Linked DNA regions of Homo sapiens: region 1 is linked to region 2. Evidence: fine-mapped expression QTL. A gene starts in region 2. The other region holds a variant in brackets. All regions are shown on one strand. Distances are between the middles of the regions.

Region 1 (15,332 bases), 28 kb after region 2:
GTGTTTATGCAAATTCACGTTTCTCAACTCTTTTTTCACTATGTACCCCCATATCCTGGAGCCTTTTTTGACATTTTTTTCCTATTCCCATCCCTCCTCATGAGATTTTAATACCACAGATAAACTGTGCATCTGTTGATGTCCTATATGTAATCTGTGCTTTACACTTAGAGTGAGATTCCGTACCCCACCCAGAACCGATTTTCACCACCTGGAGGGCAGTATCACCCCATCATTCTGTTAAGTTCTGCTTTTTTGCTATTATAAGCAAATCAAACTCATGAAGTAGCCATTTTTAAACTATCACAATCTAACCTAAAACAACTTTTTAATTCAAAGCACTTTATTTCGTAATTATGGTTTCGCTTATAAGGGGTATCAGGGCTTGGGTGAATATTTTAAAAAATTGTTCAGGCACCAGGAGTGAAGTATGAGAATCTAGACTCCCCGTTTTTATGCAGTCTACAGTATAATAGGCTATGTGTACACCAGGAAGAATGAACTTTACTAGGTAAAACTGATTCTTCCTGCAGTTGGTAAGGAGGCTGAAGACTGCGACTGAAGCCCCATCTCCCAGTGCTGCAGCCTCCTCCTGGGCCTCCCTGCCTCTACTTTCTCCACCACCCTAGAGCTCGTCCTCCACAGCGGCAAGAGTGATCCTTCAAAATGTCAATCATGTCAAGCCACTGTGCTGACAAGGCTCTCCATTCCAACAAAAGAAAACCCAGACACCTTCCCAGGGCTTACGGTCTCAACACCTCCTGCCCACGCCCCCTCGAAGGTCCCACCTCCCGCCTTCCTCTCTGCTCCTGTGCTGCACCCACTCACGGTCCTCCTCTCCTGAGTTGGCCAGTGTTGTTCATGTCTCAAGATCTTTGCTCTTGTTTCTTCTGCTTGGGTTTCTCTTTAGATTTTAAAAAATTTGTTATATTAAAAATGAATTTAATTTTTAGAATAATTTTAGACTTACTGAAAAGTTGCAAAAGTAGTACAGGGAGTTCCCATCAACCCCACTCCCAGTTACTTCCCTGGGTTTTCCTATGAATATCCCCTCAGCATCTAAGTCTCATCTATTCGGAGGCTTTCTCTCTCCATGTCAGCTGAGTTAGGAGCCCACCTTCCTGCCTATTTTGCTATTGCATTACCCCGTTATGTCTTTTCATAAAACTTTCCTCTATCGAAATTGTCTTTATGTATTTGTTTGTTCAGCGTCTCTCTCCCCTCATCAGCTTGTGAGCTCCTTAAGGGCAGGGACTCAAAGCCAAGTGCACTGCAGTTCCCAGGGCCCAGGACAGTGGCTGGCACATAGGATGTTCTGACCTACTGACTGGCTTTCAGTCAGGGAAGGCTGGTCCAAGGCCTAAAGCCATGAGTGGAGAGCCAAAATGAGCAGCTCATTTTCTTGACATTCATTCAAATGCTCGACATCATTAAGCCCAGTCTATGTCCATATCAGATTGAATTCTCAATGGCAATCAAAGATAGGACTGCTTCTACAGAGGACCAGTCAGAAGTTATTTGGGTAAACTGATGGTGAGAGGACTTAGGCAAAAAAACTGGCTTTCCCAGAGTCACCCTATGAGACCCGCATCTTAGCCCCATGTATTGTTGCTCCTTTATATCTGAGAATTCTCTCCATCTCAGAGCTGTGCATTGCGTTGATGTGGGTGCTACCTTTATTCGGTTGTGGAAATAGGATCTAATTTGGGGCTTATGGGAATTGGAATTGCATTGGCTACTAGTAACAGACACCTGACACAGCAGCTTAAGTCAAGAATTCTGGAATTCACCTGTTGCTGTCTTCAGTGGTCCAGGATGTTTGTGCCAGCTGGAGTCTCTGCCGTTCTCTTCCCCTTTCGTTAGCACTCCTGATTTCTAGGCTTCCAGAAGGAAGGGCAGGAAGGCCAAAAGGGCTTACTGGAAAGCCCCACCAATAACTACTGCCTCCATTACGTTGGCTACCCCTCCTTGCCTTTTTATCTCCTGTCAGTCCCCTATGGACCATGGGTTTTGGGTGAGGCCCAGGCAGCATTAGGAAGTATCTCTCTCTCTCTCTCTCTCCCTCTCTCTCTCTCTCTCTGTGTGTGTGTGTGTGTGTTTGTGTGTGTGTGTGTGTGCGCGCGTGTTTTCAATGTGGTCTCCTTTCTCCCTAGGCCCAGAGTGCCTGCCCTCAACCAAGTTTTGAGAGGTCGAGAAGTATAATTCCCCCTGCAGGGCACATTGTGCAGGGTTCTGTTATGCAGAGATAAAGAGAGAATAGACATTGGGCAATCCCTGCTGCAGGAACCAACATGAGTGTTTATTCCTATCAGTTCTGCTACTTGAGAAACTTAGGAGGAGACCATGGGGAATTTAAGCTTACATCGGGGATTAAAAAAAAATAAAGGGGACTCTTCCATTCCTTAATTTTTTGTTCATTTTGAACAGTACTAAACTCAAACCGTGTCACACCAAAATGTGATTTTGTGTATGTAGGTGCATGAGTTAGCATTACATGCTAAGCTTCATTAACAGGGACCCTGAAATCAATTGTTTAAAAGAAGATAAAAGCTGTCTCTGTCACGAATGGAAGTAGACTGTGGTTCAGGGTGGATAGTATGTCTCCTCCACGAAGCTGTCTAAGGATGGGTTCCTTCTGTCTTGTGTCATCTTCCCATCGGGCAGGGGTTGGCAAATTGCTGCCCTTGGGACAGATTTGGCCTGTCTCCTGTTTTTGTACAGCCCGCATACTAAGAATAGCTTTTACATTTTTAAATGGTTGGAAAAAATGTGAAAATTATTTGCAACTCAGATTTCACGTCCATAAATAAAGTTTTATTGGAACACAGTCATACTCCTTATTTTTATACCGTCTGTGACTGCTTTTGTGCTGCAATGGCAGAGTTGAATAATTGTGATAGAGCTGATAGGGCCCACAAAGCCAAAAATATTCACTGTCTGGCTCTTTACAAAGGAACTTTGCCACCTTCTACTCTAGGCTGTGGTCCTGACTCAGTGCTTGAGGCCAGCCTCCTCTCACTTTGTCTGCTTATCAGCCTGTGGGAAGAGGGACTTAGTGGGCACACCTAGCTGTGGGGGTGCTGAGGAGATCAGTCTGCAGCTGGGCAGCCATTTGCCCAGCAGACACTCTGGAGGTTCTGCTATTAAAAGGAAGGAGAGAGGAGATTGAGTTACATTGAGCAGACCACCACAGGGGCTGTGTGCATGCACATGTATGTATGCTTTCAGAATCCACTGTGGTTGGTTGAAGGATATCGAAGGTCATCTTAATGGATATTGAAGACTGTCTTTATTTATACGTAGTATGGAGTCCGGTATAAACAAATATGGGAAATGTAGCATATGATGGAAGAGAAGGTATTTATCTGCCCTTTGATTCATGCATTCATTCAATGACTGTCTCATAAGAATGATTTCCCCCCTTGCTTGGTAGTGTTCTAGTTCTAGGATCTGAATTTAAATTTCTTGGTGACGTACTCTTGCTTATAGAGCAGTGGTCTCCAAGAGTGGTCTCTGGACAAGCAGCAGCAGTATTTTCTGGATTATTGTATTAGATGTGCAGATTCTCAACACTGTGTCCTCTTGCCCCACACCTACGAAATCAGAAACTATGGGGCTGAGACCCAGCAATTTGTGTTTCAACAAATTCCCAGGTAATTTCAATACACTCTTGGGAACCTCTGCTGTAGAAGATGTAGCGTTAATTCATAACTATAATGAGCGAATGGTCTTCTCTCTTCACTGAATGAACATTTTGTGCTTTCTGGGGAATCAACAAACATTTTCTCCACTTACCTAAACTTCTTATCAATAGTCTCTTGTACTCAGAAAATGTACACAAGTCAAAATAGACAAATCATATTTTGGCTCCACATTTATTCTAGCAGACAGTGGCAGACTCTGCCAAAGCCACGAAGTGACTCCCCATGCAATTGGCCAGGTGACCACCACCACCACACAGAGCAATCTCAGTCCTTGACTGGTTCCTCTGTGTGAAAAGGGGCCTCTACAGCCTTGACCCAGTGACTTTCAGATTCTGAGGAAAACAGACGCTTGATGCCTGTCCAAAGTAAACAGAGCCAAGAGAACCTTTCACAAGCCTGGTTAAGGATCGATGGTTCCACCCAAATGATTTAGATGATTTGGTGTTTAAGTATGTTGTTGCATAACTCTTGGCAGCCAGAGATACCAGTGTGCTGGAGTGAGTGGCAATTTGGATTGAATGAATAAGGTATCTATCAAGGGTGTATGTATATGTACATACCAGCTACTGTGATTTGGACATTACCTACATTAGCTTATGTAACCTCATAGACACCTTATCAGGTAGGTACCCTTATACCCTTAAGATAATTTTCCAGATCAAAAAGCAGAGGCATTGTGAGGTTAATTTGCACAAGATCATCTTCCCAGGAAGAAGCAGGGTTAGAATTTGGACCCAGGTATTTGGTTCCTATACTTCCCATGTGCGCGTGCACACACACACAGACACACACATACATTCTGTGCTGTCACAGCCTAGATGTGGTTGTTTCTCTTGGTCTCTTCTGCATGGGTCATTTCTTGTATGATAATTCTGAATTTAGGTGGAGGTTGTAGTTGCTGAATGGGCATGGGTGGCCAGGCCCTCCATACTGTGTTCAGTACCTTTGATGATTAACTCTGAAAGGGAAGAAAGGATTACTTAGTGCAGGCCAGAGAGCTGTAAAAGGTTCCTAAATTACTCATTTCCCCTCTGAATTTCTCCTCTTGCCTCGAAAACTAAAACACACTTTATAGGGGAAGAATGAAGACCGTATAACTCTGTGGCAGCACAGTTTGGTAATTAATGGACTTGTGCCTCTATCAGAAGAGTGATGTATTATTCCAGAGCCCTGTAGAATGAGTTAAACTGAGAGTGAATTATTTGGTTTGACTGATGTGTACAGTAACTGAAGATAGTTTATTAGTGGGCCAGGTTTTAATCTTCTCTCAAAATGAGTTCTCCTCATATTCTGCACAACTGCCCAGTCTCTTTCATGCCCTGAAATTGAGTAAAAGGAGAAGGTGCTAAAATGGTTGAAACAAGAAGTGAAACCTTCTGTTTCATCATATGTTCCAGAAAATATACAGTGTGTTTTTACTGCAGCCTCCTTTCCATCCCCCCTCCCAATCATTTTCATTAGTGACTGATGTGATTGCAGAGTGGTTTGGTGGGGAAAAGTACTTGCAACCAAATTTAGTAAACCGCAAGCCAATTTTATTTTTAGTTTTAGTGAGCAAGGGCAGATAGCAATTGCAAATATCTTACTGTATCTACTTCTAAGCTTTTACTTTTCTTTTTTTTTAATGTTTTGCCTTTTTCTCTCCCTAGTATGTTTTGTCTATTTTGAATATAATTGTTTTTAGGAGAAAAGGCCATTTTTTCCTTCTATCATTGAGAGCCCCCTTTTTTTTTCAATATTGTAGGCATCATCTTAGTAGGAAATAGAATATATTTATAATCAATGATGTTACAGAAATTTTGAAACTGAGAAATTAAGTACCATAATTAATAAAAGGTAGGAATAGGGAATCATAAATAATTATTTAGTATTAATTGTCAGCAGCAGCCTAAGGTTGCTCAGTGATAGATTAATAAGATCAAGCAGAAAAATAAAGGATCCCATTGGCCAGAGAATGTGAGTGGAATTCCTTTTTCACCTGTATGGCACAATGGTTGGCATTCAAGAGACATTCAGTAAATGTGGTTTGGTTAGTTAGTTGGTTGATTGTTGAATAAATGTTTGAGTCCTGCACTCACTCCAGAACATCAGACTATTGGATATGAGGTTAAGTTTGACCAGAGGATCTTGAAGAGGCTGTATAATGATCATATCTTAAGTACTAGAAGAGTCATTAGTGGTCTCAAACCCATCTGCTCTACCCATTGGAGACTTCTGTAGGGACCCTGACAGTGGCCCTCTGCCATGCTTGAACATTGTGATCACTAAGGGCTTATTTCACATCAGCTTATTTCAGGTCTATTCTGTTGCTGGACAGCTTAGATTATGGGATCAACTTGTGGGATTGTAGCAAAAGCTCATCTGCGCTTTGCAGATTCTTTCTTAAATAGTCATATAAGCCAGTTACCCTCATGGGTTGGGATGGGAGGGGGTCAGTCAAGGAGGACAGCAGTCCCCAAAACTTCGGGGAGGCTTTGTTAGGGGCCATCTTCATGTGTACCTCTTCATCCCATTATGAAAGTACCCAGGGACTGAGAATTCTTGGCATTTCCCAGTGTTCTCCCTGGATTTTTCATAGTGAAGTTTTGATAGGGACTTCTCTTAGAGTCTCATGATAATTGTTCCAGGGGGAGGGGGTAGAGGGGCAGGTAGGTGGAGGGCAGGAGAGGATACATGTTTTGCAAACAGTTCTGAGCTGCAGACATCCCAAAGCACCCCTAATAGAGGTATGGATTTCTGGGTATGGTGAGTGGTAACCCCACCGTGGTCATTGCCAGACCACATCAATTCTGATTGTCATATTCAATGAAATAAGTCTCTGTAGAAAGGCTATCAAGAAATGAAGGCTCTGGAAGCCATGAATGAGGAAGAGAAGAGGGACTGGTAATGCTTAGCTTGGTGAAGAGAACATAGTTCCAGATATGAGGAGGGCTGTCAAGAAAGAGGGAATAGGTTTGTTCAGTATGGCTGCAGAGAGTGAGACAGTTAGAATGGAGATGGCTATGGGATAGGTTTGCCTCAGGTAGAATTTCCTGGTATCGTCATCTAGAACTGAACAATCCTTTTTTTGTTTGGTTTTGTTTTGGTCTTTGCCTTTTTATTATAGTTGGGAAAAACCTGCAATCTGGTTATTAATGAAAATTTCCCCAATAGAAGTTACTCACTTTTTTGAATAATCATATTCTAAATATAGACTTTAGGAAAATAAATTTATAAAATACATTGTTGCTAATTTTTTTTTTTAGTGGAAGTGTGATGCTTTTTATCATTCGCAAAGAGCCTGATGCTTACATTTCATTAGTTTTATTTCAGCAAACATTTTCTGAGAGCCCACTTCCTGGCTGACAGTGTTAAGAACTGTATGCTCCAAGATGAGCAAACCAAGTAGTGTACCCTTGGAGAGTACTAGTGGCCCCACACTGCTCATAGGGCCATAGTGGAGGTGCTGATTCGAGGGAGAAATTATAATGAACTGGACATTGGTCTCTGGAAGTTGGAAATTACCTAGACTGCTCAACAAACCTTTTACATGATTTATAAATTTTAAAAATTCTCCCTAGAAACTAAGAAACTATATAATACGGCTTTGTGAAAATGCAACACCAATTTACACTGTTTTCAAAAACATGTAATCATAATAGTTATGAAAAAGTTGTAAAATTCAAATGTATTTCTGTGTATCTGTATTGGGTTATCTCTGTATCTTTCTTGTACTTTTTCCACTGCCATTTTTTGCAGTGTCCCCTTTTCAAACCTCCTACCTTCTTCCTTTTCCTGTCCTGTGTCAATAGACCTAGCTGAATTTCGCCTCTGCATAACTCATTCTTCAATCACTACTTTCTTATCTGTAATTCTTCATTAACTCGCTGTATTTACTTACTATTCTTGTATTTCCTGAGTCGAATTTTTAATTTTTATCTTTTTCTTTTACAAAGGAATAGTAAGTCAGGATTCATTTGTTATTACTTATATGGCCTTTGATTTTTCTTTTCCCTTTTCTGAGTCAATGGGAGATAGAAAAAACTAATCCAATGCCTGGCATAGATGAAGCATTGAGTATTAGAAGAAATGCAGTAGAGTTTGGGAGAGGAAAAGGTGTGCTCAGTAGCACAGTGGGGTAACTGGGAGATGGAGTGGGTCAGAGGGCCAGCTTACTTATACCCTGGCCAGGGAATTAGATTCAGGGTTTCATGAGTAGTAAGTCAAGCCTTTTGATTTATTCCAAATACAGGACTTTTAGGTATTCAGATGAATACTTGTGAAGTTGTTGAAGAGATGTAGCCAAATATGGGAAAATCGTATAGAGCAAAGTTTTAGCAACCCTGTCATGAAACCATGAAAGCTGATTCATTTCCTTTAAAAACCATCTATATCATTAGCTGACCTGTAGTAGTAGTTGTTGTTGTTTTATATAAGAGAACTTCTGATTCATCAACAGACCTAGCTAAATTTCCTCTGCATAGTGACATAATTAAGTCAAATCGAAACTCTCACATCATCATGTGAGGACGAAACTACGTAAAGACATGAAGCTGCTGGTTTGATTTGGGAAATCTAAAAATAAAATGCTAATGAGATAGATATACTAAAGTAGAAAGAAAAATAATTATTAAGTATATGTCAACATGAGCCACAATTCTTTTTTGTTTTTTCACTAGTAGAGTGAATTGTGGCAATTTATGACAATTGGATAATGCAGGTTTTTTAAAAACATTAGTTTTGACTCAAACTTTTAAAAATTAAAAGATTTTATCCTCTGTGTTTTTTTTTTGAGATGGAATTTCACTCTTTTTGTCCAGGCTGGAGTGCAATGGCATGATCTCGGCTCACTGCAACCTCCGCCTCCCGGGTTCAAGCCTCAGCCTCCCAAGTAGCTGGGATTACAGGCATGCGCCATCATGCCCGGCTAACTTTGTATTTTTTTAGTAGAGACAGGGTTTCACCATGTTGGTCAGGCTGGTCTCAAACTCCTGACCTCAAGTGATCCATCTGCCTTGGCCTCCCAAAGTGCTGGGATTACAGACATGAGCCACCGTGCCTGGCCTCATCCTTTGTTTTTGAAAGTATTGTAGAAAATATAGAAAATAAAGGAAAACATGAAAATAAATTATAGTACATTTATAAGACATAGAAAAGCATTTTTAAAATTCCCCCTCCAAGCCAGGTATGGTGGCTTATGCCTGTAATCCCAGCACTTTGGGAGGCCAAGGCGGGCAGATCACTTGTGGTCAGGAGTTTAAGACCAGCCTGGGCAACATGGTGAAACCTTGTCTGTACTAAAAATACAAAAAATTAGCCGAGTGTGGTGGCATGTGCCTGTAATCCCAGCTACTTGGGAGGCTGGGGCAGGAGAATCACTTGAACCCGGGAGGTGGAGGTTGCAGTGAGCTGAGATCGCACCACTGCACTCCAGCCTGGGCAACAGAGTGAAACTCCGTCTCAAAAAAAAAA[T/A]ATATATATATATATATCGAAAATCCCCCCTCCCAAGAGCTACTGCTGTTAACATTTGGATGCCTTTCCTTTCAGTCTTTATTTACATTATTAATTATTATGTATAATTTGTATTGTGCTTTTCCATTTGCCTTATAACTTAAAACTTTTTCACTTCTAGTTACAAATTCTTCATGCATGAAATTTTTAATGGCGTTACCTATCGAATGAGCACATTTTTATCTAAAATACTTGATGACTATACTTCACATGCTGCCTGCAGACACTTAAATGACTGGTGGAGTTTTGGACCTCAAGAGCCAGTCTCCTTCAGTTGTCAGGCCATCAGCATGGGCCTGGAGGCGAAGTGGCCTGTAGCATGAGAAGCAGGTGGACACACAGGCTTCCCTTCAGACCCCACCTGAGTGCTTCCTAATGTCTCCCCCGTGTGAGGCTTGGGCAAGTTGTGTGGCCTCTTAGGAGAGGAAAGCCCCTTCCTGTGCCCTGTAGTCATCATGCCCAAATGTGCAGACCAGGGCTGGCCCCATGACAGTGTTCCCACCGGTCCTCATGCAATGAGAAAAAAACATAGACACGCTGTCATGACTGTTTCTTCAAGTTAGATACGGCGGCATTTGTGGCCTTTATTCGAAGGTGATGCCTTTTGATGAATGTGTGCACTAAACTGTTGTTTCTTTTACAAAATGAAGATAATGATAGTCAATATCTTTGTTTTCTGGACTCTTCCATGGGCATTACTTTTCTTTCATGGCCTGCTTTGTGAAATCCAAAAGTCTGGAAGCAATTCTTTTGCAGGCCATCTGTGCCAAATTATTGGCAATTCCCTGAGTCCTCCCAGCACATCTTTGCTCACCCTGTTTCTACTTCCTTGAATGCCCACCTTTGACAAGATGACAGATTCTGTCAAAATTCCCTGAAGCAGTACCCTGCCCCCCGAAGCTTTCTGGACCTGCCTCCCCACCGGGCAAGATGATCCTGTCCTCCTTATAGTAACACTCATTTCAGTTACTCAGTCCTCTGACTGCCTCCCCTAGAAAGTTCCTGAAGGAAATGGAATCCTCTTCAGAAAACCTATCTTCAAAGAAGCCAGGTAATGTTTGTCAGGGTGCTCCTGGCAAGGGAATAGAGGAAGGTAAAACCTTCTTGCAGATTACGTGGGCGCTGTGTTTGCTCTAGTGGTCACTGCTGAGGCTCCTGCCAGAAGGGACTTTCCAATCAGCATTGTGAGACTTTGTTTTATTTCATCAGGGTGTTTATTTCCTCAGGGGAAGAAAACGTAGGGAAGACAATGGGAAGAAAATGAGGTGACTGCTAAGTGAATTAATCAGTAATTATTTAGCCCATTGCTATATCCCATGTTTCAGCAGATACATTCGTTTTAGACAGCTCTCACATTTAAAGATAAGTGACCTTTCCCCCCACTGATTCAAATTGAAGATCAATGTGTGCTTGTGTGGGAATCTAGTTGAACCTGTGGGTTCAGGCTTTCCCATTGCCTCTTTATTTCTGTGCTTTTACCAACTGGATGCACCTCCCTATTTCTGACACTGAGAAGTTCACCGGTGAGGGAGGCATGCCAAGGAGGACTTGCGATAGCCCAAAAAGACAGGGTCTCATAGAGCAGAGAGACTGGGGGTGGGGTGGGGAACTTTGAGTTTGACCCAGGCCTTTCTGCTTGCCTGCCTTTGCCTGCCTGTTTACATTTTGATCTTCAGAGGGAAAAAAATAGGTGAACTGTTGCCCTTTCTTTCTCCATGGACGTCTTTCTTGACACTGGCGACATACTTCTTTGGCACTTTTTCCAGTCTGATAGGCATTAAGAAAAAAAGAGGCTTTTCATGCATTTGTTGACAGAGCAAGAAAGGGGATATAGTTGTCTGGTTCAATTGCTAAGATATGAGAAATTGGGCTGCTTGAGGAGAGGAGGCTGTTTACAGGCTCTGCAGCCCAGCCTATGTGTGAATGCTCCCTGGTAGCACAGGAAAGGTGGCCCACCATCCTGATTCCTTCACCAAAAATGATGGGGACAGCACGTAATGCCAGGAGACAAAGAGTTATTTTTGCTCTACTTGACTTTGGATTGGGGGAAAGATTTGAGTACCATCTCTTCGTTAATATGAGAGCAGTAAAATAGATAAGTAAAGCCAACGTAAGTAGAAACCTCGCCTATCCTTAAGGACTCCTCAGCTGCCCATTTCTGACTGCGTAAACCGCAAGGAGGTTTTCCTCCTCCAGACCCTGAGTTGCATGTGTCATTCACTCAGCAGTGAATCAGTGAATCCTGCCTCGTTCCTTTGTTGCTGTCTGATTGTTTCAAGTGCAGTGAGTTTGTCTTCACAGCTAGTTCATGAGCTTATTGAGTGCAGCAACCATGCATTTTAATTTATTTCATTAAAAAAGATCTCTAACCTTAAGAAGGAACTTGGTAAATGTGTTTCAAATAAATGAATAGATGGATGGATAAATGAATGAATGAATGCAACAGTTTCTTAGGCCTCACTCTGATGATAACAAGTCAAGTCAAGAAATACTCAGATACGCCTTCTCAGTAGATTAAAAGTCCAAAGACTAAACCGTATGCTTAAAGATATTCCCTGGAGTCTATTTACAATAGCAAATAATTGGAAATATCCTAAGTGAGTAATGATGAGAGAGGATTGGTTCAATAATGGGTACATTCACTTGCTCTGCTATGCGGCCTCTAAAAAATTATGGTGTGTAGCAATCTAAAGAAACACGTGGGCCAGGCGCGGTGGCTCACGCCTATAATCCCAGCACTTTGGGAGGCCGAGGTGGATGGATCACCTGAGGTCAGGAGATGGAGACCAGCCTGGCCAACATGGTGAAACTCCGTCTCTACTAAAAATACAAAAATTAACTGGGTGTAGTGGTGCGTGCCTGTAATCCCAGCTACTCGGGAAGCTGAGGCTGGAGAATTGTTTGAACTCAGGAGGCAGAGGTTGCAGTGAGCTGAGATCGTGCCACTGCACTCCAGCCTGGGCAACAGGGTGAGACTCTGTCTGAAAAAAAAAAAAGTAAGAAACATGTGATAAAGTGACATACCACATTATATATATAATGCACAAAGATCTGGGAAACCCAGTTGCATGGGGATAAAGGAAAGAAAGAAATTTACCAAAATGTAAAGAGTGGTTGTGCTATGTTAAGAGTGATTTCTTTTTCTTTTCTTTTCCTTTTTTTTGAGACAGGGTCTCACTTTGTCACTCAGGCTGGGGTGTAGTGGTGCAATCAGTGCTCACTGCAGCCTCAATCTCCCCATGTTCAGGTGATCCTTCCACCTCAGCCTCCCTGTCCCCCCTCCCCCCAGCCCACTCCCAGGTAGCTGACACTACAGGTATGTGTCAACACACCTGGCTAATTTTTTTTTGTGTGTATATATATATGTATATATACTTTTTTTTTTTTGGTAGAGATGGGGTTTTGCCGTGTTGCCCAGGCTGGTCTTGAGCTCCTGGGCTTAAGCTATCCACTCGCCTTGGCCTCCCAAAGTGCTGGGATTACAGGCATGGCCCACTATACCCAGCCAAGAGTGATTTCTTTTCTCTATTTTCCAGATGTCTTGGAAGGTAGCTAAACTTTCATAATGTAAAAAAAAAAATTGTTTTTACTAGTAGAGGAAAAGTGATCTGAAAGAAATATGTTAAGTGTGTACAGTTGCTGAATCAGAAGGTGAGTACTTGGATACTTATTCTTTGGGCTTTTCTGTATGAAGGACATATTTTATAATTTTTTTATATAAAAAGAGAAAATAGTGCAGGTTGAGCATCCCAGATTGGAAAATCTGAAATCCAAAATACTCTAAAATTGGGTATTTTTGGGTTGCTGATGGGATGCTCAAAGGAAATGCTCATTGGGACATTTTGGATTTTGGGTTTTCAGATTAGGGATGCTCAACCAGTAAGTATAATGCAAATATCCCAAACGCCAAAAAAAATCAGAATTCTGGGCCAGGTGCACTGGCTCATGCCTATAATCCCAGCACTTTGGGAGGCCGAGGTGTGAGGTCAGGAGTTTGAACCAGCCTGACAAACATGGTGAAACCCCGTCTCTACTAAAAATGCAACAAATTAGCCAAGTGTAGTGGCGGGCGCCTGTAATCCCAGCTACCTAGTAGGCTGAGGCAGAAGAATTGTTTGAACCCAGGAGGCAGAGGTTGCAGTGAGCTGAGATCACGCCATTGCACTCTAGCCTGGGTGACAGAACGAGACTCTCTCAAAAAAAAAAAACAAAAAAAAACCACCAAAACGAAACAAAAAAAGCAAAAAACCAGAATTCCAAAGTGCTCAGGTTTCAAGCATTTTAGACAAAGGAAACTCAACCTATAGTAGATTAAAAGCAAGAACAGCAACAGTATGACTAGTGATAGTTAACATTATAGGAAGAAGATCAGAACTTCTATTTTTAAATGGCAATACTCTGGGACCATTTGGAATAGGGAGACAATTGTCTGCCATCCCTGAGGACAACTCTATTTAAGGGCTTATCATGCAGTCAGACTGTTGATAATGATCACTCTGCCTCATCAAGTAAACACTTGATTATATTCAGTAGACTCTGTTTAAGAAGGCATAGAATTAGCACCTTTTAATACTTAATTAGTACTTACAGTACTTAATAAGATAAATTTCAGTTATCTGAAGATTCACTCCTGTGTTACACCAGAACACCCTGAATCTTCAAGTGCCATGGGATAGCTCATGTCACCCTCACAGTGGGACAAGTTACAGATCATCTGGTATATCACTGTTCCCTAAATGGAAATACTTACTGATCAATCGATCAATGGGGAAACGGTTTTCCTTAATTTAATGTTGTTCTAATCTTTTACAGTCAAGAGGTTTCTTCAAGATGGTGGCCTGTCATCTGCTGGCTTCTGCTCCTTAGTATGGCTAGGCATTTCCAACTCTTTGTTTAAATTCTTGTTGGCTTGCCTAGCTTGACCCTCCTGACAGGTGCTATTTTTGTTCCTGGCCAAGTGGCCACAGCTGTGTTGACATTTCTGCCAAAGACAAAATCAAGGAAAGTCAATAAACAGTATTTAGAATAGTAGCATGGGGCTTATCTTAAGGCTTCTAGGAAGAGTAGAAAATTGACATGGAGAAATGGAATACTACTCAGCAATAAAAAGGAACAAACTCCTCATCCACATAGCAACATGCATGACTCTCAAACCCATCATACTGAGTGAAAGAAGTCACACACAAAGGCTACGTACAGTTTGATTTTACTTTATGAAATTCTAGAAAAGGCAAGACTATAGGGACAGAAAACAGCAAAGTGGTTGCCAGCGTCCTGGAATGGGGGAAGGAGATTGTACGAAGAAGCACAAGGGAACGTTATTGGGGTGCTGCAAATGTTCTGTTTTTTTTTTTATTGTGGTGGTGGTTACCCAACTATATGCATTTGCCAGAACCCATCAAACTACACACATAAAAATGGATGACTCTGATTTTATATAAATTGTTTCTCAGTAGCTGTTAAGTGATATGAGAAAGCTTCCAGTCACTTTCTGTGCTCTTTGAGGATGAATTGTTACCAAACCCTTCTCCCTCTTGTTATTATTTGTTGGATGCCTACAAGAAACTATGGTGCTAAATATTTAAAAATGCTTCATGTGATGTTACTTAGGGGTAAGATTAAGTGGTTGATGATTAAGCTGCAGAGTCAGCATATAATTTATTCTTATCTTTGGATTTTCCTGGTCTCCATTTCAGTATGTGCTTAGGCGTGTTTTCATATTTACCTCCAGTATTTTGGGAGGCATGACCTCTTAGTTTCATACCCTCAGTACCCGGAAAAGCAAAGAGTATACATGTGAACCTTGACTCACAGACTTTTTACTGCCCTGGACATTTTAGTTACCTTTTCCTTTGTCCTTCTACTTGCTGGAAATGTGGATCCGGTTTAGAAGGGATCAAGGATGGGAGCTCTCTAGGTTTATTTTTTTAATTTTTCTATCAGCCTAAATCATGCTTTGATCTCTTGGTTTCTTTATTCCTTGTTCAGTGATGCAAACTCACTATGACCTCTGTCATTAGATCTAGCAGTATTGAACGTGTTTGGATAGTTCTGTAGAAAATGATTTTTAAAACAGAAGAGGAGAGTGATCTCATCTCCTAACTGTAAGTAAAAAGTAAATTGAAAAAGTCCAACCAA
Region 2 (15,332 bases):
TCTTCTCTCATTGCATCCTGTGTCTGACCCTAAGGCTTCTGAGTTTGAGGCCTTATAAATAAGAAAAGTCATTACATATATAAGGTAATACAGAGAAGAAAGAATCATTTATCTTGGCAAACACATAATGGGATGAAAATTACAGAAAGGCAAATTGAGTTATAAAACCCAGGGGAAAAGTCATTTCCTAGAGAAATGACTGGAATCTGGGTCCATTTTCTGAAAGGCAAAAGTAGCCTCCACATTGGTCCAGATCTGGAAAAGAAAGGATTGAGCTGCAGAGCCCATTGAGATGACGTTTAATGGGACTGTTTGTTCTGTGACTCTGGGAACAAAAATTGCAACAGAAAATATAATTATGCCAAACAATTAGCTGAAAGGCAACATGAGTTAAGTCCTTACAAAACAGGAGACAAAGATAAAGAGCATGACAAAAGCAAAAGGGTCACCTTTCCTCATGAGAGGTGATGCCTGTTTTCCCTACTCCACCCCAAAATCACCAGCAGGAAGGCGCAGAGTGGAGGTTGTCAGGAACAGGGTGAAGAGCAACCCAAGGGTATCTTTTAAAAGTCTGACGTCTCTATAAAGTTTAGTTTTAAAATAAGGTATTTAAGACCAGAAACAAGCTTGGTAACAGTAATGAGAGGACCTCCCAATAGAGAAGCAGAGGGCAAAAGACAAGCCAAGAGCTTCAGTTCCTGCTGGAGGCCTCATGACATCTCCATCATCAATTCCCCATCCTGATTCTCAGTATCCTCACCTAAGTGCATTTGGCAAACTAGGATGCTGTTGCCCCTCTAGCCTAGTTTCTGTGATTTATGTGAGCATGGGCCCGCCCCCAGATTCAAGGGGAGAGAACAAAAGTGTTTTATAATCCACAAATTCAAGTACGGGTAGAATGTTAAGTGCCAGGACTCTGGAGTCACACAGAGCTGAGTTCAATCCTAGTTCCAGCACTTACTAGCTTTAAGGACCTCAGCAAGTTACCTTATTTCCCAGGGTCTTGTTTTTCTCATCCATAGTTTGGGCATAACAGCATTTGTCTACCTCATAGGATTTAAGAACTGCTCTCTGTTAAGGCATCAAGTCCAATAGTAGGCACTCAATGAATGTGGTAATAGTTATTTAAAATAATCACCATAATGAATTTGAACATCTGTGTAAAGGGAAAGGTATCGTAGTCAGTCTACGAAAGGAGAGCTAGTGTCAGATCTCATGTCATTGCTGAATGGCTCCCTGCTTATCTCTGTCCAGTTGAATGGCTTTGCGTCAGCAGAGACTAGTAAACTAGCACCATCAAAACAAATGAGACAAGCATTTTCTAAGTGCCTGTTATTGGCGCAGCACAGTCCCTGTGCTAGACCTTAGAAAGAGGTCTCGTCAAAAGTGTGTCCACAACCACGGGAAGGAATGACTTGTAATCTATCCAAGCTAAGAGATTGAAGACTATCTTTCCTCGATGCTACATTAGAGAGGAACAGTAACAAATTGTTAGAAATTGCTTTAACATTGAAAACTGAAGTCTTAGCACACTGCCTTATCACAGTGCTGAACTATACTCCCATGCAACTTTTATTGAGCAGTGCAGGCCTAAAGATAGTTTCTCTTTGGGAGGCCAAGGTGGACGGATCATGAAGTCAGGAGATTGAGACCATCCTGGCTAACATGGCAAAACCCCGTCTCTGCTAAAAATACAAAAAATTAGCCAGGTGTGGTAGTGGGCGCCTGTAGTCTCAGCTACTCGGGAGGCTGAGGCAGAATTGCTTGAACCTAGGAGGCGGAGGTTGCAGTGAGCCGAGATGGTGCCACTGCACTCCAGCCTGGGCGACAGAGCGAGACTCCGGCTAAAAAAAAAAAAATAAAAGTTTCTTTTCTCAAGGAGGCTACCATCAAGTGCAGAGGCCTCCAAGGAGGAATGCATTCACCCCAGGATGTGGGCCAGGCAATACTCTGCGGTATGGTATGAAGATACTAGGCCTTCTATTCCTGCGTTTTAAAAAGAATTTGATTTATTTCATAACACACATACTACATTTGGTTTTGGTTTAGAGATAGAATCTCACTCTGTAGCCCAGGCTGGAGTGTAGTGGTGTGATCATAGCTCAGTGTATCCTTGAACTTCTGGGTTCAAGTTATTCCCCCCTGCCTCAGCCTCCTGAATAGCCAGGATTACAGGGGTGTACCACCACACCCAGCTAATTTTTTAGTTTTTTGCCAGACATAGGGTCCTGCTATATTGACCAGGCTGGTCTCAAACCCCTGGCTTCAAATGTCCTCCCACCTCAGCCTCCCAAAGTACTGGGATTATAGGCGTGACTCACTGTGCCCAGCCTATAATATACATACTATATGTGAAAAGTAGCACCTGTATATAATTTATAAGTAAATATAAATATTAATGAGATCAAGGTTCAAGTGGATTCTTGAGCAAAAGGTTTGAGAACTACTGGTACACAGGAGATGGAAGACCAGTAAGCCAGCAGTCAGAATCTGATGCAGAGGGAATTTGGCTAGAACACAGATGACAGGCATCCAGCTCAGCAGGGAAGGAAGAGGAGGAAGTTATAGGGAAGGCTTCCTGGAGGAGATGACATGCTGAGTTGCTGCAGAGTATTTGGGGGAGGGAATAGGGAAGAGGGAAAAAGAATGTTCCAGACAGGCTACACAATATTTGCAAAGAAAGGCAAGGTGGTTTTTGTTGAACAAGTGAGCGCATTTTGAAAACTAAATGACAGCATGCGGTGGCTCATACCTGTAATCCCAGCACTTTGGGAGGCCAAGGTGGTTGAGTCCAGGACTGCGAGTCCAGCCTGGGCAAATGGCAAAACTCCATCTCTATAAAAAAATACAAAAAATTAGCTGGGCATGGTGGCGTGCACCTGTAATCCCAGCTACCCAGGAAGCTGAAATGGGAGGATCGCTTGACTCCAGGAGGTCGAGGCTGCAGTGAGCCGTGATCGTGCCACTGTACTCCAGCCTGGGCAACAGAGTGAGATCTTATCTTAAAAAAAAAAAAAAAAAAAAAAAAAGAAGAAGAAGAAAGAAAACTAAAATGATTTGGTACATCTTGAACTGTCAGTACATGTGGGGAAACTGTAGGAGGTAAGGCTGGGATCAATTTTGGTCACTGAAAAGCAGGAAGCCTATTCTGGTAGTGAAAGTTACCACTAAGACATTCTAGCAGGGGAGATGAGATCATGGAGTATTCCCAATTTGATCTTCTAGTCCAATCTCCAGTGATACTTGTCTGAGTCCAGAGGAAACGGACTGCAATAGTGTGAGCTGGTAAAACCTCAAAAAGCTAGAACAAAAAACGTGCTAGTAGCCTTTGAAGTTATAGAAATCCTCAAGACTGTGCATTGCTGGGTGAGAATCAGTGACGTCTAAAAACACATCTTTGGGCAAAAAAGGCTGTGCAGTCTTTTACAAGCATTAGTGGCCTTAGTGGCTCCATTACAGTCAACAGCAACTGAAGTTATCATCTGAGTGAGCCAAAGCTGGAAAGAAGGGAAATAATAGATACCAGAGCAGCCAAGAGGGTAGTACACGGAGTCCAACCAAGCCACCCCTAGCAGGCCCTTAGAATAGATTGAGGAGGACTTTGCAAAGCACCTAGTGCTCTCTCACGTGAGGAGAGACTGGGCTTGTCTTATTCAAATTGTATCCCTCATATCTTGCGCAGTGGAACAGGACTGCAAGGCTGCACAGATCCCAGGGTCACTGTTCATGCAGTTGCCTATATAAATAGAGCCTTCTGGAGTTGTGTAACAGGAGCTTTGCATAGATGTTCAATCAAGATAGGTTAAAGGCAAAAATGAAACAGTAATTGCTTAGCTGCTTCTGTTAACATTATTCTAAAACTCAGGTTGGGGTGGCCTGAGCAGCAGTGGCTCCCATCAGATTTGGGTTTGGAGTTATCATCTGGGTAGTAGTGTGGCACATAATGTAGTGGAATGGATCCAGGATGCTCAATTAGAACTGCAGTGATTGGGTGGGTGTTTTACTACTTTAGTTCTGGAAAAGTCCTTCAAGGAACTGGAAATAAATGCCAAAACTACGTATACAGTCAGTAGGCAGGAGCAGCCAGGTGGAGAGCTAGGGGCTAACACTCATGAGGTCACTGGTGGCAACTAATAAGAATACCCCCATTACTCATTCTAAGGCTAGCTCTTAATCCTAGGCAAAATGAGACTGAGGGACAAAATGAGAATTAATCACCAGAGAGCAGATAAAGCTGATTCATTTCTGAGCTGGAATAAAATAAATACAGAAAACTTGGTTACATAAATATTAAACAATAAAACCTGGAATAGAAATCATCCTCCTTAGAAGAAGATGGAGCCTAAAAAGAAGGCATCCCTTTGAGCCCAAGGTTGCTGTTGGTGGAAGTGGCAGCCTTAGCATTCAAGAGCCAGGGAACATCAGACATTGTAAGCGTCCACAGACTTGCATGAGCTGAAGAAGACCAAGGTTCATGATCTGCTCCTTCGACACAGTGGTGACAATAGAAGAAATATCTAGTAAACCTGAAAAGCACCTCAAGAGGGACCTGGAAAACAATCTAAAAAGCCAGAGAAAGCTACAGTTGAAGGCAGTATAGAGTTAGATTCAAGATAGAATCTAATGTTCATATAGATCCTCTTGCATCATTAACAGATGTCCACACAGGACACAGGAAGTGCACGGTTTTGATTATCAGTGTATGCCAAAATAAACCAATTCCTGTATGTGGAGGACAGACAGCTGTATGAAGCAGGATCCTCAGTGTCTTCAGTTGGCTCCATTAGACCAGTGGATTCACACCTTCCGGCAGCTGCCCCATCTCGAGGGCACTGGACATGCTGGATTTGGGGAGACTGTTATGCGATCTCAAACCATTTGTAATGCTAAGTACCATATTATGGGGCCACTGCACATCCATACTTTGTGCCTATACATTGGGAGGCACTGGGCTCTGGGGAGAGACAGATGGTTTTCAAGAAAAGGCTCTTAAACCCAGAGAATGCTTCTTGTCTACAGCCACTGTCATATCATTCTGACTTCTCAGTTCCCTCACTTTCCCTCTCCTTTCAAATATTTTTACTTTCCAAATCAGACAGATGTTTTTTGCCAGTACAGAGGTATATCAGTCATCACCTTCTCTCTCGGATGTAATAAGTTGAATTGTTTGTTTTATATATTTTTGTAGCTTAGATGTTGACTTTATCTAAAGGGATATCCTGGAAACAAACATTTTAAAAATATAAGTACAGAAAGGTAAGCATGCTATTAGCAATTTTTAAAAAACTTTGCCTGTGGTTACTATCTATATATAATTTGTCCTTCTATTGTCTATCAATGCCTTCTAAATGCACCATGAGTACAGAGAAAAAAACTGTCTGTGTGCACCTGGGAGAACTTGCTTGATGCCCCGGCCTCAGTTTACCACATCTCCAAAACCAGTGGTTCTGACAGCCAGAGTATCTTCCAGGTCTAAGAGATCACAATCATGTATCTTATATAAAGACCGGAAATGCCTAGAGTGTACAGATTTTTAAAAAGTAGTATGAGCAGAACATCACATAAACAAAGCTTCAGTCACATATGAAGAAGTAGTAGGGTGGATTATTTTCAGGCAAAATGAACTGATTCCTTACAAAACAGTAATAATTATCCAAGGTAGAGAAAATAATTTTGTCTTAAAAACCAATATCTTGATTTACTTTGGAAGTTATTTTAGCTCACTTCATTTTTTAAAAAATCTATTTTTTTCAATTTGGTCTAGCAAGGTTTTATTTTAGGAATAGTGAAACTGACAGGAGGTAGTAGAAAGCCATGCATTAGTGAAACCCAGGCCCCTTACTTCCTTCATCTTTCACCTGCACATTTCTGGCACTTCCCATCTCGGAACTCTCTTGCCTGAACCACCTCTCCACACTCTTGGGAGTTAATAACTCCACGTAGACAATTTTTCCTCTGGAGGACAGAACTGCTACTTCTTCAAAGCTTTTGGGGCTCCCAGATGCTGCATAGTGGGGGTGCCTAACATTCATCTCTAAGGGTGGCTGTTTTGGCATCATTTTTGGCTGAAGTTTTGTATTGCATTTCCATGTCATTTGGTGTGGTGTGTGCCTGCCAGATATTCTGCCTGCTCTCAGCTGAAGGCCTTCCCAGATTGGGCAGCTGAATGTACTGCACAGCTGCCAAAATTCTAATTCAAGATCTAGAATTCTAACTCCTGCTCTTTAGACCCTTGTCTGGCCTTGGCCTCAGTCCCCTGCCAACTCGGTCCCTGGCTCATTATCAGGCCCACCAGGGCCCTGCCCCCACCCTCATTGGGCCCATGAAACCATTCTTGGCACCAAACTGAACTTCAAGACACAGCTGCCCCAGCCCCACCCAAGCCGAATCTCATCTCAGCAAGTTTGTCACCTTGTGAGCTGCAAGACAGAAGAGATGAGAAGAGAAAATGCCACCGGTGATGGTCAGATCATAAAACTTCCTGTAGCAACAGACATATTACATGTGCCTTTACTCTAAGCACTTACATGAAAAGCAAACAATCCCATTATTAGAAATAACACTAGACAGAGATGCATAGAGTTTATGGAGGGAGGAATACTATTTCTCCATGCATCTGCACCAGAGGGTAAGTGAAATTTGCCCTAAGGAAAAATGCTAAATTCAGTATGCATATATTAATATTAATAAAAAAAATGTACTGTTGGGTCATAAACTGCTGATAATGTGTAATATTTCTTAGACACCTGGAAAAGTGCTACTGGAAAATACACACTTTACAGAAGAAATATGACTGCAACTGGAGGAGGGGGTGGGGACAAGAAAGTAATTGATTCTCAGCAAAATGCTGGTTTTCAGGGAAGCTACTAAATTCACCTTAAGTGGTTACCTGGTCAACATTATGCTTTAAATGCTCACAGGATGAAATCGCTTCCTTTTTAAATGAAGAGTCACTATGTCCCTTGCCGTTGTTTCCGCTCCTTCTAGCCTTAACCAATGCACTGTCCTTTCTGCAGTGGCTGAAACGAGGATGGGTTAATTACCAGACCTGAGATGGTGGAGTGGGTGCAGTAGGGTGCTGTAATTTCGGGTGATGAAATTATTTTAGTTTTTGTTTTCCTAGAAGGAGCAGGGAGTATAAAAAACGTGGCACATATGTAAAACACAGGCAAATGCACTTGACAACCAAGCACTCTATTTTGAAATTTAAATAAAGCTAAGATTTTTTTCTGGCCTAGAGGGAAAGCTTCATTAAAATCAATTAGTTAGTACAAACCTCCGGAGAATGTGTACTTTTTCTAAAGAAGGTTTAAAGAAGAAGGTGCACACAATTACCTTTCCTGGGTCCCCTGTGAATGTGTCACACCTAGACAGGTGGCTGAGTACAAAAAAATGTCCCTGAGAGGGACCAGGGTAACTCCCTGAGTTCTCCTCGCAGGGAGGTAGGTGTAATTAATCGATGTGGGTGTATTAAGAACGTCATATACATAACCAAGGAGGCTCCAAACAGATGGCACGGATGGCAAGCCGTAAAGGGCAGGCCTAGCGAGATAAAGTTGGTGGCAGGGCTCGCAGGTGAGGCCTGGGTCCGCGCGCTGAGGTTGGGGCCGCACAGCTGTAGCCGCGCGCCCTGGTCCCTCCTCCCAGCTGCGGCGGCCTTCCCCCCCCGCCCCCGCCCCCGCCCTCCCCCCGCCGCTCCCGACGCCGCCGCCGCAGCCGCCGCCTCCCCTCTGCCTCCCGGTGGCTCCTCGCTCTCCTTCCATCTCTCTCGCCCCCTCTCCCTCCGTCCCGTCCTCGCCGCTCCCCTCACCCCGCCTCTCTCCCCCTCCCCCAGCCCCTCCTCTCCTCACCCCACCCGGCCTCCCTCCCTCCCTCGCCCGCCCGGCGCTCGCAGAGCCGACACCAGGGGGGCTCTCGATGTAGCACCATGACAGGCATCGCCGCCGCCTCCTTCTTCTCCAATACCTGCCGATTCGGGGGCTGCGGACTCCACTTCCCCACCCTGGCCGACCTCATCGAGCACATCGAGGACAACCACATCGGTAAATGGCCCGGGGGTGGGCGGGGGTGCCAGGCGCGCGGAAACTCCTGCCCGGGCGGGGAGCCCCGGAATGGCCAGGGGTGGCCGGCGGGGAGGGAGGCGGCAGGGCGGGGAGGGCGCGTGCGAGCCCCGAGGTGGGGGTGGCGGGATGCGGGGGCGCGAGGTGCCGGGGGGCGGGGAGCGGGCTCGGGTGGGGGAGGGGGCGGGCGCCCCGAGGTGCCGCGGGCGGGCGGGCGGGCGGCTGGGGGACTCAGGGGCGTGCACGCGGGCTGCGAAGTGGTGGGAGCGGGGAGCGCCGCGGCGGGGCGGCGGGGTTGCGGCGGCGGGGCCGAGTGCCGGCGCGCGGGGCGCGGGGCGGAGGGCGCGGCGGGCGGCGGGAGCTGGGCGCTGGGCAGGGTCGCGGAGTTAGTTGGCCCGGGTGGTCGGAGTAGCCCGAGGCGCTGAGGGCAGCGGGGGGCGGGCGCTGCACGCCGCCGGGCGCTTCCGCCCCGGCTCGAGCTGTCAGGGCTCGGCGGCGGCTGCAGCCGCGGGGAGGTGGAGCGGGGGGGCGGGGGTGGCTCCACCGCGGCAGCCATTCCGCTTCCTCCTCCCGCCGCCGCCGCCGCCACTGCGTCCTGTCAGCGCCGGTTGCTAGGTGTGGTGCGTCGGGAGGGGGCCGGGGCCGGCGGCCGCGGGCGGGGGCCGGGGAGCTTGCCCTCTCCCTGGGAGGCGGCCGAGGGGCCCGGGCGGGGCCGGGGACGCGGGCCCGGGGGCTCTGGGTGCCCTCCCCTGCCCCGGCCTGGCGCGGACGCCCGGGCGCTGCGGGCTGAGGTCTTGGGTGCGCCCGCGGGCCGCGCCCAGCGCCCCGGGGTCGACGCGCCCTGGAGGCCCCTGCGGCGGCGCCCGCTGGAGAGACACCCCCAGGGCCCATGGCCGGGCATTTAAATGCACCCCGGCTCTGCGATTTGCCTTTCTAATGGTGCTAGGCCCGAGGTGCGCTGGCTGCGCCCTGGGATCGGCGGCGGCCTGCGCAGCGCCCCGGGCCCGGGAGACGCCGGGGAGGGGGCGCCCCGCAGGGTGGCTGCTTTCCCTTCACGCCTGGACCCCTGGACCTTTCAACAAGTCCTCTGATTTGCAGAAGTCATTGCACACATTTTCACACTTCTATTCGGAACCCCTGCTAAGGGAGGTGGGCCGGGTGCATCTGGCTTAGGCGGTCCAACCACCTGCGGAAGGTGTGACCGACGCCAGCGAGTTGTCCTGCGTGGGCTAGAAGGTGAAGGGTCCGAGCGATGTCCCAATGGGGCTGTCTAATCCAGAGAACCTGTAAATTGCCCCCAGGAAGTCCAAATGAATGCCATGGATTCAGCCATGTGGATGCAGCTCACGTTTCTACAAAGTTGAGAGAATAAATCACGACTGCTGTGTATTTATGCAGGAATAAAATGAGGCAGAACCCTATGCTCCTTTGCTTAGTATAGTGCTGTCTCTGCACACAGTGGCTGCTTAATAAGTGTTGAATGCCTGTTTAGAATGTGATTTGATGGGCCATCCGGAATAGGAGATAATCATGGGAAACGTCTACAAAATGTCTTTCAGAGGAAAATGCTGTTGAGTAATTGTCCAGGTTTTGAAACTTTTCAAGTTTTCAGGCGTCCTTGTAATAGCTTCTTCCATTTCCTCTGCTAAAGGTATGACAGAAGAGCTGGGCAAGTTTTGGTAGTCTTAAAAGCAGTTTAATGGAGCAACCAATTTGCTGATTCATATCATGATTGAATAGTCATAACTGAAAGTGCTTGAAAGTATTAAATCAGATTTTTCATGATGGCTAGTTTAAAATAAAGCGAAAACACCGGTACTGTGAAGTTCTGGTAGAAATGTTACTAGTTCAAGTTCTTCCCCTTACTCCCAATAATAAGTAAAAAATAAATATAGATAATGCTATACATTAATATGTATGATATAAGTAATATAAATAAATAATTTCTCTTGACTTACAGAAGGCTGTCATTGCATATCCCATCCATTCTCGCTAACAGTTATTTCAGAATAAACTATAATTTATATAAGCTGAGTAATAATTTTACCCCATTGCCTACCTACTTAGACAAGCTGGTTAAAAGACAGTATAAATTATATTTATTAAAATGTGTTAAAGACAGTTATCCTTCTTGAGGATTTAGTTTGAGATGGTTTAAAACTTGGTGAATCATGAGGTTTTTTTTTTAAGTGTAGAAATTGTCTTAATATTTTGCACACATTTTTAAAGAAGGTTAAGAGTTTGATACGTTTTCTAAAACTCAGCTTTGAAGTAATGCTACCTCATTCCCAGAAGGCTAGTGTTGTCCTTTTAATAGTGAAAATGTGGAAAAATTAAGTTTACAGCAATAGCAGTGACCTAGGTGAACTGTGTTGCAGGGCTAACACAGTTGAAAACAGTTTGAACCAGCAAACTTTATGAAAAGCAAATGTTAAAATGAACAAACACTTGCAATTCCCAGGATGAAGAGGCTCAAACTATTATACACTTCTGCTGGGGAGAGGCCCTTTACTATCAAAGGCAGCCCTATATGCAGAAAGAAGAACTGATCTTAAGAAGAATAAAAATATCCCAATTAGTAGATAGTGTCATATAAATACACTTCTGATGAAAAGACATGGGTGAAAATATAAAGCATTTAGTCAAAGTTCTAGACAGGTATTGTTATGTGGTATTTATCGTTTTTGATTCAATCTATAAGTATTTGGAGACCGTTAATGATTGACTTACTGATTTCATGTCTGTTGGTGAGTGGTTACATTAAAAAGATTCATGAAAAGAATAAGAGGTGTGTTATTTTGCTTTTAATTTGTTCAACAGTCTTGTTATTTAGCAACCGTGAGTATTAGAGATATGCTTAGGTGAGCATTCCATTTTGGGGGCCTATCTGGGTTATTACCTTTAGCCACTAGTAAAAACCCTTAAACAGCGATAAAATGAATATTTATGGGAATATGGTGTGTTTCTTGCTTGGCAGATTTTTCAAGGCCTGTGTTTTTCATTATAAAAGTATTATGTTTAGTTTGGATTAATTAAGTGCATTAAGTTGAGAATAACTCTCTGTTATCTTATATGTGTATGCTTAACTTTTGTTTTTAACTGTTTTCCTCTCCCCATAATGAACAAGGATTTGGGGGCTTTAGAACCAAGGGAAGTGTGATTTTCACCACCCACTTTTTTAGCTCTTTTCTCTCCTGGAAGAGTGCTGTACCGGTGTTCCTGTTTTCTTTCTTGCATTTCACTGCTGGTTCAGTACTGGAGTACCTGTCTCAGTGTATACACTGAATATCCTAGCTAAAACTCTCCCCCATCCCCACTTAAATTTAAATTGCCGAGAAATCCCGTAGCCCTGCAACTGTGAAGTGCTTTTCCATCAATTTTGTTATCAATTCATTCATAGGTCTGAGTCTGTTACATGGAGATGGGAAAAGCAGGTCCAGGTTTGCTTGCTTCTTATTTTGAGTAGATAATTGAGTTTGTAGAAACATTCTTGGTATGAACATCCTAGATAGATGAAGTTAAACTGGTAACTGGGAATCTTAGAAACACCAGGAGCACTAAATTTAGCACTGAAGGTCATGTCCCAGGCTCATGAAATGCCGCTACAACCCTGCATCCCAGTGCTATGAAATCGTATGGCTTTTTGTCTGAGAAACACAACTGTTGAATCATTCTTATTTGATTATTTGGTGCATTTTTAAAAGTACCTCTGCATTTTGAATTTATTTATGTAATAATATATATTGAGTCCCTAGTTTATGCCAGGCAAAGTTATGAGCACTTGATATTTTTTGGTTAACAAAATGAAAATATCACTCTTTAGGAAGTTTATATTCTAGGATAGGGGGCCAGACAATAAACAATTGAGGTATGTGATACACAGTATGTTGGGAGGTGGTTAGTGATACAGAAAAGAGAAAAACTAGATCAGGGTCCGGAGGGTTGGGAGGAGAAAGTATGAGAATTTTAAATAGATTGGTCAGGGTGGGCCTTGCTGAGAGGCTGATATGGGAGACAAAACCTCGAAGGAGGTGTGAGAGTTAGTCATGAGGACATTCTGGGCGCAGGCAGTACACAGGCCCCAAGGCAGGCCTGCAGCACTTGAATAGAAACACAGGAATCTGACCCAATTCAGTTATTCATGTGATCGTACCAGACTAGCAGGTCATTTAGAACTTTCCTCAGATGTTAGGATCCTCAGCTTTGCTATTGAAACATTTCCCTGCAAGGGCCCAGTTAAGGGGCAGAGTCTCATTGACCAAGAATGGCTTGCATTAGCTATGACTTGGTTCCTGACCCCGAATATCAACAGGTTTCTTGTTGTGAGTCTCTACTTGTTAGTTTCCTCATCTCCAAAACCCAGGTAATAAACCTACAGTGCTTCATTTCATAGTATAGATTTATAAACCGTCTAATTAATAAAGGTCAAAGTTTCTGTAAAAAAAAATCAGGGCACTTACTATCAAAACTGTAGAATTTAGCTCCTAAGATGATTTAGTAAATATTTGCATTATCTTCTCAAAGGAGCATCACAGTGTACTAAATAGATAAGCTGTGCAATATGTCATAGGTCCTTATTACTCCCACTTTTAGGTGAGCAAACTAAGGTACAGTTTATAATTGCCTGAGCTTTCGTGGCTGATGTGTATGATTTGAGATTTGAATTCCAGACAGGTATGCAAAGCTAAGCCTATGCCAGTTGCCAATTAGGTGAAGAACGTGACAGTCCCCTCCTCACCTCCCCTCACACGATTGACTCTGTTTCCTCCTTTAGAAAGTAACTGAACTCGAGATGAAGGTCATCTGAGCAGTGGCATAGCGAATCCAGCCTGCTTGGAGTTGAACACACATGTCTGCCACTTGTCCCCCTTATGACCAGGGGCAAATTAACCGTACTATGCCTCCTCTGTAAAATGAGGATAGTAGCAGCATCCATCTCACGGAGTGGTTAGTGAGGATTAAGTGAGATAATATATGTGAAGTGTTTATCTACAATAATAAGTTGTCTACATCATCTAGTTTCTTGCCATTTGTGTATCTGCTAAATAAATATGTAATCCTACTGTCAGAGTCTACCTTCGAGATTAACATGGGTTGTATCCACCTATTAGTGGTGCTGTTTTGGGCATTTTATAACTATGACATCATCAGGCTCTTCCTGGGAAGGACTGAGAATGGAAAATAGGAGACTCCTCAACAGTCTAGTGCTGGTGTTGCAGCCTCTGGCCACGTTCTCTTTTGTGTGGCCAGAGGCACTTTACACCCTGGCAGAGGCATTTGCCACAGTGGACTGGGAAAGTGGTGTCAAAGCCAGCGGCTTCCAACATGGCCTTTCCTTGTGGCCTGAATTTATTTGAAAAAATCCAGGACTAGAAAGAGGCACTGTGCCTTGGGCCTGTGGGTGCATTCCATTGAGGACACTTCCTGTGGGGAGAAGGAATGACTGAATTAATAAATGAATGAATGAAAGGCTTGTTGCTGCCTGCCCTGCTCTCTGCCTGTGCCCTGTGGCTTGGCGGCAAGATCTCCCTGTTACTCCCAGGGTTCCCGAGAAGCCCCCAGGTGTAATGCTAGGAGTTTTAAATACATGTGCATACACACACACACACACACACACACACACCCACACACCCCATAGGCAGGATCAGGGAACCCGAAATCTGAAACTTTACGGCAGTCTCCAAAACTCTGTTTTCACTGGTTTTTCCATTAGCCTCTTCTCACCTGTAAACAGTCAGATCATCCTTTATAAAACATCACTGTTGAACATCCTGTCTCATAAGTTTCACAAGCTTCTAATTGTTTTCATTTAGTATACACATTTTCTGACATGTGACCGAAATGTACAGACACCAGAACTCTGCCTGTAACTGACTGGGTTGACAAAAACCCACATATTCTTCAGAAAATGGTTTCCTTTAGAGTTCATATATTTCGGAGATATCTCCTACGTTGACAGTTCTAGAAATACAAACTGACAGCTGTTTTGAGAAAACCCAATTCTTCCCGTAGGTGACAGTGAGGATACCTTAAGGCTGGCACAGGCTGGTGACACTTGATGAGGGGCTTCCCTGGGACTGTTTGGAAGCCAGAGGCCTGGTGTTGTAGACTGAGTCTGAGAGACAGGAGACAATGTTTCTGAATTCCTTAAAAATCCTCCTTTTCTAGTTTTAGCTTCTAGGGCAACAATCATACATACCCCACATTCCCTTATATTTCTCTACCCCATTCTTACCCCCGCCTTCAGATCTTGACAGTACAGACGTGTCCTGTGTACAAAGAAATACTTGCTGGATTGTAGATACTCATTTTGTTTCATGGTGAGGTAATAGATTTATTCCATGTTGACCTGGCTAACGTATTAAGTTGAAAAATGTTATTTATTTAGAATCTGAAGATAGGAAACCATAGATGTCAGAAATTTATTATGTGTGTATTTTTTAAAAGTGCCTTCCATTTAATATATTTAATTGCTGTAAAGAAAATTGTATTTTCCCCTCGCTGTAAGCACTGGAATGTTGCAGTAGTTTTCACCTACTTTTTTTTTTTTTTTTTTTTTTTTTTAAAGCTAGCTGCAAGCAGGGACCAGATTAGTGGATATCCTCTTTAAGGGTGAAGTCTTTCCAATTGCTGTCAACTTTGGCAGGAGTCAGAGGGACTCTTCTTGGGTCACTAACAATAGACTGTCTGCCCAGCACCAGAGAGCACTGATAGTCCCCTGACGGCCATTGTCCCTTGCCCAGCTCACCCACTGGCCTCCCAAGGAAGCACTGTTCATTGTCTGCCAGACTACAATGGTGACTTTCTCCTGAGATAGACCTCCTTGAAGGGACATGATCTGGATGCCAGGTTAATAACACTGAAAAATTCACCATTTCTTTGGTATTATAGATATAATTGATATATAGAAATAAATATATATTTTAGGCACAAAGGCATGTAGGATATCTAACACATATATAAATAATACATGTATATGTCTAATACACATACCACATATATGTGTGTACGTATATCCATATGTGTGTATATATTTATGTGTGTATATGTATACATTTGTATTATACATTTTTTCCCTCTCTTTCAAGATCACCATGGATAGTGAGGACAGCCACACATTTTTGAGTATTTCCTATGTTAGTGCTTAAGACAGTACTTCCTATCTCTAAGGATTTGAAATTTATTTGGAGAGACCAGACATGTACAGACTGAGATAAATAATGAATAATAATAGGGACCACAGAGGCAGATTTATTGTGAAGCTAATGAAGC

What was found. PIP is the estimated chance that this variant, and not a neighbour inherited with it, causes the effect.
Region 1: its variant is the best candidate, but not a certain one, in a credible set for the expression of JAZF1 in follicular helper T cells (Schmiedel 2018, PIP 0.75).

Annotation. Positions count from the first base shown.
Region 1 is chr7:28,144,935-28,160,266 of GRCh38, reverse strand. The region is part of intron 1 of JAZF1 (JAZF zinc finger 1); the gene reads left to right. Among named protein-coding and RNA genes, the nearest start is that of JAZF1-AS1, 28 kb to the left of the region's middle. The variant T/A (reference allele first, on the strand shown) is at 9,156.
Region 2 is chr7:28,173,173-28,188,504 of GRCh38, reverse strand. It overlaps JAZF1 (JAZF zinc finger 1), which reads left to right and starts at 7,710. Exons shown (of 5, transcript NM_175061.4): 1 at 7,710-8,042. The coding sequence starts at 7,928. It overlaps JAZF1-AS1 (JAZF1 antisense RNA 1), which reads right to left and starts at 8,048. Exons shown (of 4, transcript NR_034097.1): 1 at 7,966-8,048; 2 at 2,753-2,835. RefSeq lists silencers at 1,149-1,349, 8,516-8,635 and enhancers at 8,490-8,989, 8,990-9,491.